Linked DNA regions of Homo sapiens: region 2 is linked to region 1. The links come from fine-mapping of genetic effects on plasma protein levels. Region 1 holds a variant in brackets. A gene starts in the other region. All regions are shown on their reverse strands. Region 1 overlaps LOC124902426 (a long non-coding RNA gene). Region 2 holds the start of FABP9 (fatty acid binding protein 9).

What was found. PIP is the chance, under the fine-mapping model, that this variant and not a neighbour inherited with it causes the effect. The UK Biobank Pharma Proteomics Project read protein levels with antibody pairs (Olink). The fine-mapping took linkage between variants from a reference panel, not from the people measured, so its PIPs are less certain.
Region 2: it holds the start of FABP9, and the variant in region 1 is fine-mapped to the plasma level of the FABP9 protein (UK Biobank, PIP above 0.99).

What each region holds. Positions count from the first base shown.
Region 1 is chr10:52,572,150-52,577,537 of GRCh38, reverse strand. The region is part of intron 1 of LOC124902426 (a long non-coding RNA gene); the gene reads right to left. The region is part of intron 1 of LOC105378305 (a long non-coding RNA gene); the gene reads left to right. Among named protein-coding and RNA genes, the nearest start is that of LNCAROD, 100 kb to the right of the region's middle. The variant C/G (reference allele first, on the strand shown) is at 2,645.
Region 2 is chr8:81,459,120-81,464,507 of GRCh38, reverse strand. It overlaps FABP9 (fatty acid binding protein 9), which reads left to right and starts at 2,929. Exons shown (of 4, transcript NM_001080526.2): 1 at 2,929-3,057; 2 at 5,171-5,343. The coding sequence starts at 2,985. It overlaps LOC101927118 (a long non-coding RNA gene), which reads right to left and starts at 3,050. Exons shown (of 9, transcript XR_001745980.2): 1 at 2,534-3,050.

The sequences.
Region 1 (5,388 bases):
TACAGTGGTAGCTCAGTTTTTTAGGACATCATTTCACCCTTCTCACTAACTCCACTGGATATACCCTGATACACTTAGGCAAATATATACACATACAAATTGGCCAGAACTGGGAAAGGTAGCAAAGGAAACCTCAAATGAGCAGCATAAGACTGAATCTACCTTGCAGCAATTCTGAAGAAAAAATCATTCACAGGAAATATGTCTACTACCTACCTTCTCTCATCACTTATTTTCTACCTTTTCCTTCTTTCTTAATTTTGCTTTTTAAACGCTGGTCTATTCTGCTTTCTCAGCACTTTTGTAAAAAAGCAGTCTTTAGATCACAGTAACTAGAGTGCTTATGCTTGCCTTGGTGTGAAAGGGATTGGAAAAATTTGTAGTTACGAAAGAGGAAAAAAGTTCTATGGAAAGAAAAGAAGAATATAAAAATATGCTCTCCAAAAGTTTTATTATATGTGAAAAAAATATTTATTTTCCTCTCACAACTCATAGTTCCTGTTACTTGTTTCCTATTAGTGAGACCATATACCAGGGGTACCCAGAACCTTAATTTAGAATTAACATGTGCCATAAGAATAATATATATTAATAATATATATTTCTGTTTACGTGGTCCACTAAAATATACATTAATAGGTGTTTTATTAGAACCCTTTTCTCGGAAGTAACAGATCCATATCAAACCAGAATAGATAAAGGGGAGATATGTTGATATATGTAATAAAACCACAAGACAATCAGTTGTGGGAGTAGAAGGCAGTTAGCTAGGCACAAGAGACAATCCATAGAGGGTCTCCATATCTTTCTGACTCTCGCTTCTACTAAGCAACTGGAAGATCTGGTATCCTATGTCACAGACTTATCACCAGAGAGACTGAAAGATACTTTCTATTGTTTATGTTCAGACAATTTTGACTGGGCCTAACCTAACCTGGGACTATTCATTCACTTTTATTGTGTAATTTATCAAATGAATATTTGGAGAATTGATTGCAGTGCAAATGAACACAGCACTATGTTCACCTGATTTTTTAGTTTTCTCTTGAGTTATAATTATTAAATCAATACTTTTCACCCTTAATAATGCAAGCCCATTATTACACAGACTATCTACACTGGGGAAAATGAAGTATTTCAGAAATATAACTCTCTGCTTGAATCAGTATTTCTGTATCTCTTTTATCTGGACTAGGACTACCTCTTGTATTGCTTTAATTTTCACATCTATTTTTAAAAATCAAGAAGTATAGGAAGATTTACACAAAACCCAACCATATAGTAGTAATAAATTTGTTTTCATAGAATTGTTTTTAACTTAAATGACAGTGGCTAACTATGTAATTTGGTTTGCACAATTTCGGAAGAAATTAAGAGAAAACAATACTCAAAATTTTTATGAAAATCAAATCAGAAACCTATTGACTAAAAACCAACAAAATTTGACTTAAAAGAAGATCCTGTTTCCAAGTTAACAGAATGTAACTGCAATTCTCTCCATTTTTGTACTAGCATGGCAAATTAAAAGGTTTTGTTTAAGTGTAAAGGGTGTATTCTTTTCATTTGATATCTGCATGCTACTTTCTGTTAGCCAATTCTAAAGATGAGATAAATAATAAATGTGAGGGACCTCTAAAAATGCTAGGTGAGAAGACAGTATTAGCATATACTACCTTTTCCTTTTTCTTAATTTTGCTTTTAAACGCTGCTCTATTCTGCTAGGAAAAAAAAATTTTTTTTTTAACTGTTGTAGGGAGTGGGGCACAGGAGTTCCTGGCTTCAGACAGAGCACCACAGCTATAGATTTTGATTAATCATAATAACTACATAGTTTCAAGAACCGATTTAAATTTCCTACCGGAGCAGGAAGCAAATTATAAAACTATGCTCATGGACTCTAGCTGTTGAGAAACATTTTTTATTTGTGTTTTGTTGTTGTTGTTTTGCTTTATTTTCCCACAATGTACACTTTGTGTTTGCCCTGGAGCTACATTACAGACAACTTACCAAGTAACTTCTTGGTTGAAGGCTGATCATTTAAGGAAAATGGGGAGAAACCTGAAATATGATGGAAACTACTTCCCTAGTCTCCCAGAAGGGAGGAAACAGATTTGCAAAGGGTGTTTATTTTAATTACTAAATTACCTTTATAGTGACTTGAGGCCAGGGAGGTACTTACTTGCAAAGCTGTAATAGAATGTTTTCAGCAGGAAATCTTAAATAAGGGTAAAACCACTTCAGGACCTTGGCTGGAATTTTGAACTGTGAACATTAAGCAATCAGCAAGAAAATAATATAGCATTATTTCATTGATATAGACTGTGCTATAAATAAGCAGAAATAAAGGAAGGAAACTGTATGTCTGATTGCCTTGGTACTAAATTTCCCCGGCAAAAAAGAAAATAGAATGGGAAAACATAATAATTTGCTTCAAAAGCAGAGCAATAAAGATATTTTGAAATGTCTTATAAAAAAACCTAATCATTAACACTAAAGATCTATTCACACTGGGAAGGGGTAGACTAAGAATAAAAAGAGGAAAAACACATTTTTTCCCTCTTGAGCTTTTTTTAGTCTCCCAGTGCTGTGGAATTAGAGCAGCAAGCTGAAATGATTTATGAAATGAAAAATTCCTGCCCACCCA[C/G]TTCACAGACAATCATGTGCAATAACTACTGTGTTCTGCTATGTGCCATAATATTTAGCTCAGATGTAACCAGAAAATCCCACTACACATAGAAGAGTCAACCATAAAAAGAAACAGATTTCCTTGTATTTCTCTCATGTGTTTGCACACGGACACACCGGAAAATAATATATGCATATTTTTGCACACATCAGTAATTTCCCTTTTATCTTATCCTTCCTTTTGCTTTTCTTTTCCTTTTTTCAGAGAATTTAATTTACTTTTACTTTTAAAGTAATTCCTATATAAACTTCTCACCTCCTTTCTCTATCTTGACCCCGTAACCCTCTTTCCTCTCTAGAAGAAACTCAGAACCAGGTTGTTACCTGAGTAATTTAGCAAATAACTATTTATCTAAGTGGAATGATTGTGCTACAAAAGTTATTTAGTTAAATACTGGTTTTCTTTATATTACTAATTAGGTTTATTAGGTATGTGAATACTCAGGAGAGTATACTTTGGTCTGAAACTGTAAATAGTACATTTGTTTGTGCTATTTTGCAAAGCTTAATAAAAACATGCAAAAGAAACTATGAGTATTAAATTGAGAAATCACCATTAACTGACATATACAAGACAACTGACCAGTTCTTCCACACAAATATACTTAACCAGAACGATATGAAGTATCATGGAAAAATAAATTATGTAGAAGGAAGTCATGTACTTTCCTCTGAGAATACTGTATTTATATTGGAAAATCCTATACACAATAAAACATTGACTATCATAAGACCATTTGTAATCAACCTCTCTAGTAGTTCTGGGAAATGAAGAGATTGTTAAAAACTTGGAGAACTGAGGAAAGTCTGTGGAAACGGTGGAACTTAATATAGGTTTAAAAGACTGTTTTGTATAAGACCTTGTATACCCTGCATGGCTCTTGCCACAATGGATTGCCCAAATTGATAATTATAGCCAAACTTCAGTCTTCCCAGTTAATTATATTTTCCCATGTCCTCTGGATATCTGAGCACACAAGGAAGTTTGAGAAACAACAAAGTGTGGAAAGCAAGAGCAAACCAAGTCTTGTAGAGGAAGTAGTATCTTAGGGAAAAAGAGGTCTCAATTTCCTCTCTGCCATAATCTCACTGTGTTTTGGGGAGGTATTTACAGCAATCTATGTCTCCATATCTTAACAATAGAGATTGTGTTAAGGCCAACGATTTTTAGAAGATGAATGGGTGGAGAGCAAAATGTTTCATAGTGTGGGGGCAGATACTAAATCCTCTGGCAGAGGGAAGTTTCTAACTATTCCAAGAGACAATCTTACAAGATACTCTAAAAAGCTTTTAGTCACCAGCCCCACCCGCCTGTCCCTTCCTTGTCCAACACATACAGCTGGAATTAGGATTACTTATTGTGAAGGGGAGGGGCATAGGCCTGGGGATAGAGTGGAAATTAGAGAATTACTCTTTTATTTCTCATTCCACTTTCTCAGTTCAAAATTTATTTGTAATTCCCTGTATTTCATCTTCAAGAATATTTTTGGGCACAGAGATAAACTCCAGTGTACTTTTGAATGAAATATCAGAAAACTTTTCCACTTGATCTAAAAACTAACTTTGATAATGTTTTATGATCACAGTGCAGAGCAGGTAATTCATGTCTACATGATCTCCTGCTGAATGAATTTGTAAATTGTCATTCTACAGCACACCTTTTAAAGATATCTTCAATCTTTGACTATAGTAAACGTAAAATTGATATTAATTTGTTAAGGATTTTCTCCATTAAAGTCTCTTTCTTTTTTTTTTTTTCTTGTTCCCTAGGTAAAGTGCAATGGTGCTATCTCGGCTCACTGCAACCTCTACCTCCTGGGTTCAAGCGATTCCCCTGCCTCAGCCTCCCGAGTAGCTGGGATTACAGGTGTCTGCCGCCACACCTGGCTGATTTTTTGTATTTTTAGTGGAGATGAGGTTTCACCACGTTGGTAAAGCTGGTCTTGAACTCCTGACCTTAGGTTATCCACCCACCTCGGCCTCCCAAAGTGCTGGAATTACAGGCGTGAGCTACTGCCCCAGCCTAAAATCTATTTCCTGATATTTTTTATTCTTTTCTAGTCAACTAATATTCCAAACTATAACTCTAACTGGACTGGGTAAAAAATAATACCTGAATGCATACTTGCTTTTTTTCCATTGAAAAGAAGAAACAATCAAAATGGATCCCATTCTTATGGAAGCAGGGTATAGAGTCTACCCTTCAGCTTCTGAAAGGTAACACAGAAATAGCAGTAATCGTTGGAAACTTTTCAGTTGCAAGTGATTAACTTCCTACTTAAAACAGCATAACTTTTTTTAAACAAAAATATTTGACAGCCTTTGAGGGCATATCACTGAAAGTCCAGGGATACATTTCTTTAGTATGTCTGGGATCCAAGGTGTCACATAATTCCATTAGGATATTATATCTTTCTATTCAATGACTCTTTTTATGTTGCTGGGTGATGGCTGACAACCAAATTTTGACATCGGATTACAGGGAGTGTCTTCCCTAAGAGCTCTGGATCAGATATTCTTACTGTCTCATGTGCCCACCCTGTGGCTTAGAAGAAGATTCAGCTTCACTCCCAACTAGATCATGTAGAATGTTTTCCACAAGAAATAAGGGTTCCATTACCGAAAGAAAGAAAGAGAGAGAAGAGAGGAAAACAGTACGGTATAAGTCTACTACATAAGGGCGCATTCCCAAATATGCTGGAA
Region 2 (5,388 bases), not on the chromosome of region 1:
GAAAAATGACATATTGGAGAAATGAGCCTTGAAACTGTCATAAGAACAAGACATGTAACTATTCTATAACAAACTACAGTATTCTAGTTCCTTTACTAGGATTAACATTAGGAACAATCTGATTAAAAATTTTTTTTCTACTTGAGGAAATGGTGTTCACTTTTTTTATATAATCAAACCAAAGTGCCAAAGGCTAGCGGTGGTAGCAACAGAAATAGCAGAGAACTTTCTTAGTTGAGAAGGGAGACTTGTGCTATATAACTGAGAAAGATGAAGAGAGTCTGAGCATCCCTCCACCATCTGATAATGACCAGAATAAAAGGCCTGTCATAGGACCAGGTCAGGAGAAGATAATGTACTAAAACTCTGTCTTTAGTCACTGTTAGAGAGATAAAGAACACTAATGAGAATTACCAGTTAAAAAAAATACTACTTATTTCTTTGGTCACTCATCCATAAAACATTTATTGAACACTTATGATATGCCAGATACTGTCTTAAGGATACAGAAGTGAGTGGAAAATATTTTCTTTTTTTGATATACTCATAGAATAGCTCAGGAGACAGCTGGGAAATAGCTCTTTGCAGTACTATGAAATAAGCTAATATACTTCTCTTAAACATTTATTTCTATCTTCACGCCATGGGGATTATCTAGCTCTGAACCAGTGTCACAGGGAAAGAGATGTTTGAGTTGGTTCAGGAAGATGGGTCTCTGCTGTCATGAGGCCAGCTCTATGTGATTCATGCAACTGGTTGTTGTGAAGGTCCAAATTCACCATTTGGTGAAGCTATTTACAAAGGCGTAGTAATTATGAAGACTTCTTCTACAAGTAACAAAAGCTCAGAGACAAAACTGTTTAAATAAGAATGGAATTTATTAACTAACATAATATAAATTTTTGAAATAAAGTGGCCTTCAGTTCCTTCCACGTTTCTGCTCTGCTATCCTCAGTTCTGGCCCCATCTTTGAGGAGGTAACACAATGGATGCAGCACTTGTAAATATCACGTGAGATAGAAAAATGTGTAGAGGCAAAAGAGAGACTGTCTCTCCCTTTGGTTCTCTCCTAGGGGTGGGGAATTTTACAGAAGCCAGAATTTTTATTTTATTTTATTTTAAGTTCTGGGATACATGTGCAGAACGTACAGGTTTGTTATATAAGTAAATGTGTGCCATGGTGGTTTGCTGCACCTATCAACCCATCACGTAGGTATTAAGCCCCACATGCATTAGCTATTTATCCTGATGCTCTCCCTCCCCCCATAGCCCTGGCCCCAACAGGCTCCAGTGTGCATTGTTCTCCTCCTTGTGTCCATGTGTTCTTACTGTTCAGCTCCCACTTATAAGTGAGAACATGAGGTGTTTTTCTCTTCCTGCGTTAGTTTGCTGAGGATAATTGAAACCAGAAATCTGATGTTAGCTTTTGTCTCATGGGCCAACTGAGTTCTAAACGGACCACAGGAATATCATTCTATGACAGGAGAATCAAAACAACAAGGAAGATTATGCTGATGGGAGACCTTTGCTACACTACCCAGCTGGCCAACAGGCATAGCAATGTATGCTTGCTTTCTTTAAAGCAGAGAGTGCATACACATCTCGAACCAGTTAAGCAAACGTTTAACAACTTGCTCTATATTTGAACATCACCTCTGAATGCACTTTCAACTGCTGAGGCACTTATTTTGAGCTTGGGTCTTAGTTTCCTGAAATTAACTCCAGGATTTTCACTTACCCTGTTTTGCACTGTAGATAATTTAATAATTGTCCCACCCATAAAGATATCACATTATATGTTTCTTCTTTATATGTTTTCATCAAAAGCCATCCTTTATTCCACTTAAGTTATTGTTTTACAGTACCAAAATATCAACCTCCTGTTTATTTTGTTCACAAACAATATTTTCTGAATTAAATAAATACTTCATACAAAGCAGGTAAAAATATAAATATTCTTCTTCTGGTCCCTGACACTAACTTTCCAACATCTTCTAAAGTTAACTGGAGTTCAAAACCGTAATGTAAATCAACAGCTACTGAATCTACTCCTTCTTACTAAACTCAGTACCTGCAAAGTCCACTTCCATTATTGGGGTTGCAGAAGATGGTTTCAGAAGTAATGGCACAGAGATTGAAACCATTTGCTGCCTTTGTCTTTCTTTTAGAATGCAGATTCCAAACATCTTTTTCTATATGAAACTTGCCAAAATTTTTTCTTATAATTTAAAATATCTTTTAATGTAGAGTTTACTTTGTAAGCCTGAAAGACGAATTTTGTAGGCATTCGCTCTGCTTCCTTTTCAGAGCTTAAATCATATACTATTATCCAATGATAATTGTCACCTTTCTTTCCTGTCCTCAATTACCTTCGATTAACAACAATGATAATATATTAATAATACCCTCCATTTCCCTCCAAGCAATTATAGGCATTTTAGTTACATTAACTAATATCAACCCATCAACCCTGTAAGGAAGGGAAGGGAAGATATTATTTTAATGAAGAGGATGTTTGAGCACTGTGACTTACCCAAACAAAAAACAGCTGAGGTGGACCAAGCAAGGATTTCTTGTCTTAGGTAGGAAAACATCTCAGCCAGGTGTTTATCAATTTGTCAGGATATTCCTCCAGGGTTGACTCAGTATTCATTGTTCAAAAAGCTGATGTCTATTGAAGATTGTCTCCGTTCCACAAGTAATATTTGTCAGGTGACTTGGGTGTAAATCTTTTTGCTAGAAGCTAAAATCATTGACCAGAATTTAATTTTACATGCTAATTTTCTGTCTCTTAATTTGGAGGTAAATAAAATGAGTCAAATGCTGGTGCCTAGAATCTTTAGTCTTGCTGCTGTTGCCCATTGGCCATTTCAGAAGAGTCACGTGATGAAGACGCTCTTTAAATTAAACTACTGGCAGCACCGTAATGCCTATATTTCTTTGGTTTTCAATTACGAGTGGCTCTTCTCAGCAAGTGTTCCATGATGGTTGAGCCCTTCTTGGGAACCTGGAAGCTGGTCTCCAGTGAAAACTTTGAGGATTACATGAAAGAACTGGGTGAGAAATACCATTACAAATTTGGAAATTGGCAAAGCATTTTGTGATGTGATTGGGTTTGTACTTTACCATGAATTTTCCTACAATTATCTTCCTTTTGTGATCCTAGGGTATATAGACTAACACAATGTATGCTTCTACTTTTGCTTTTTTAAATTACTAGTAATAATTGTCTCTTTTTGGAAGACTAGGCCCACAGACACCTCTGTCCAGTCATGATCCATATATTTAAGCCCATTTATCCTTTTTGAAAATACTTCACCTAACTTCTAGATAGAATTTCATTTTAGCTTGGTCATTTCATTTAATAACATTTTTCCCAGCTTCAAATTTATAGACAGTAATCACTACCTACAATTAAATTGATCAATTAAATTTGTTTCAAGGTTTAAGTTATAGCTTTAAAACAGCAGTATCAACTAACAAAATTTCTAGTTGGTTAATTTTTAGAGTTCTCATAAATGTGAGAGATATTTTATAAACATGGTTTTGAAGAATTACAAATCTGAAGAAACACAACATTTTTACTCATTGAATGTCTCACCACTGGATATTCCTCAGAATTATAAACCCTACCAATCCTTTAATCTCTAACTCAAGTCATTTAGTTACACATTAATTATAATGACTTGGGTGTATAATAGCTAAACTGTTCTTTACTAATGGAAGAACAGCAATTATTTCATATTTTTCATATTTAATTAAGAGAAACCTCCCTTGTAGTAAACTGTATACAAAGCCAAGGACTTTCTTATCTTTACTTTTTTTTAACTTACATAACATGCTTAATGGATGCTTACAATTATTAATTATGTTTACTCATTCTAGACAATGAAATAACAATGCCTTATCCCCATAATAAGTCAATGTGCTTATAAATGTAATATTTGTTCCTCTGATGTAGTCAATATTCACTTTCTCAGAGGGTCATAAGAAACAAGTTTTTCTGTCTCTTCATAGATTTATAGACTCACTTGTTTTGAATAAAAATTGGGGGGGTATATAAAAAACTTGGGCCTTATGGCCAGAGTAGCACTTGTGTTGACTGGGAGCTGGGTTTAGGCATAATACAAGCAAGAATAACAGCTGAGCAGTTTCTATGTGCCAGTACCATGCTAACCCCTTTCATTTAACCTTTTAAAACATCCGCTGGCTGGGTACAGTGGCTCAGGCCTCCAATCCCAGCACTTTGGGAGGCCAAGGCAGGTGGATCACCTGAGGTCAGGAGTTCGAGATCAGCCTGGCCAACATGGTGAAACCCCATCTCTACTAAAAATACAAAAATTAGCTGGGCATGGTGGCATGTGCCTGTAATCCCAGCTACTCGGGGGGCTGAGGCAGGAGAATCGCTTGAACTTGGGAGGCAGAGGTTGCAGTGAGCTGAGATTGTGCCACTGCACTCCAGCCTGGGCAACATAGCGAGACTCTGTCTCAAAACAAAAAACAAACAAACAAACAAACAAAAAAAAAACTTGCGAGGTCAAGTATACAGTTATCCACACTTTACTATTGAGAAAACTGAAGGTTAGGAGAGGTAAATAATATGCCCAAGCTAGCAAGTGGCCAAGTTAGAGCCTGGGTTTTAACCATCTCACTCTTCTTTGTGATGCAGATGTCTAACACTGCTTCTCTACAGTAAGATGTGTCATATCAGTTCCACAATCTAAATGTGAAATGGAGTTTGATATCAGGACAGAGAAGGAGTCAGCTCTTCTGCCCACCAACTGCAGGAGTCAAGTTTGACAATGGGAAATTCCCAACCAAACCACAGGGCCAGGCTCTAAGTCAAACTCCTCCCGCACCCACAAGGTTATCGTAACACTCCACAAGGTGAAGTGCAAGCATTTGATCTCTTGAAAGGCACCATACAAATTTACATTTTAGAGGAAGTGTAATAGTCTCAGAGAGTGAATTTAGCTTTTCAAAATGTCACATATATACCTTATGACTGGGAGGATCTAGCTCAGCCCTGATATCACAGAAAACATAAAATAAGTTACTATACATTATCCAAAATTTCAAAATAGGTAAAGTAAGCATTCTTTGAAAATTGACTTCCAGAGTGATTGTTAACAATGTCTTAATAAGGTCCAAGGCTATCTCTGTCTTGTAGGAGTGAATTTCGCAGCCCGGAACATGGCAGGGTTAGTGAAACCGACAGTAACTATTAGTGTTGATGGGAAAATGATGACCATAAGAACAGAAAGTTCTTTCCAGGACACTAAGATCTCCTTCAAGCTGGGGGAAGAATTTGATGAAACTACAGCAGACAACCGGAAAGTAAAGGTCAGAACTAATTCTTCCTGGTGTTCAACAATCAGGAAAAAGTTA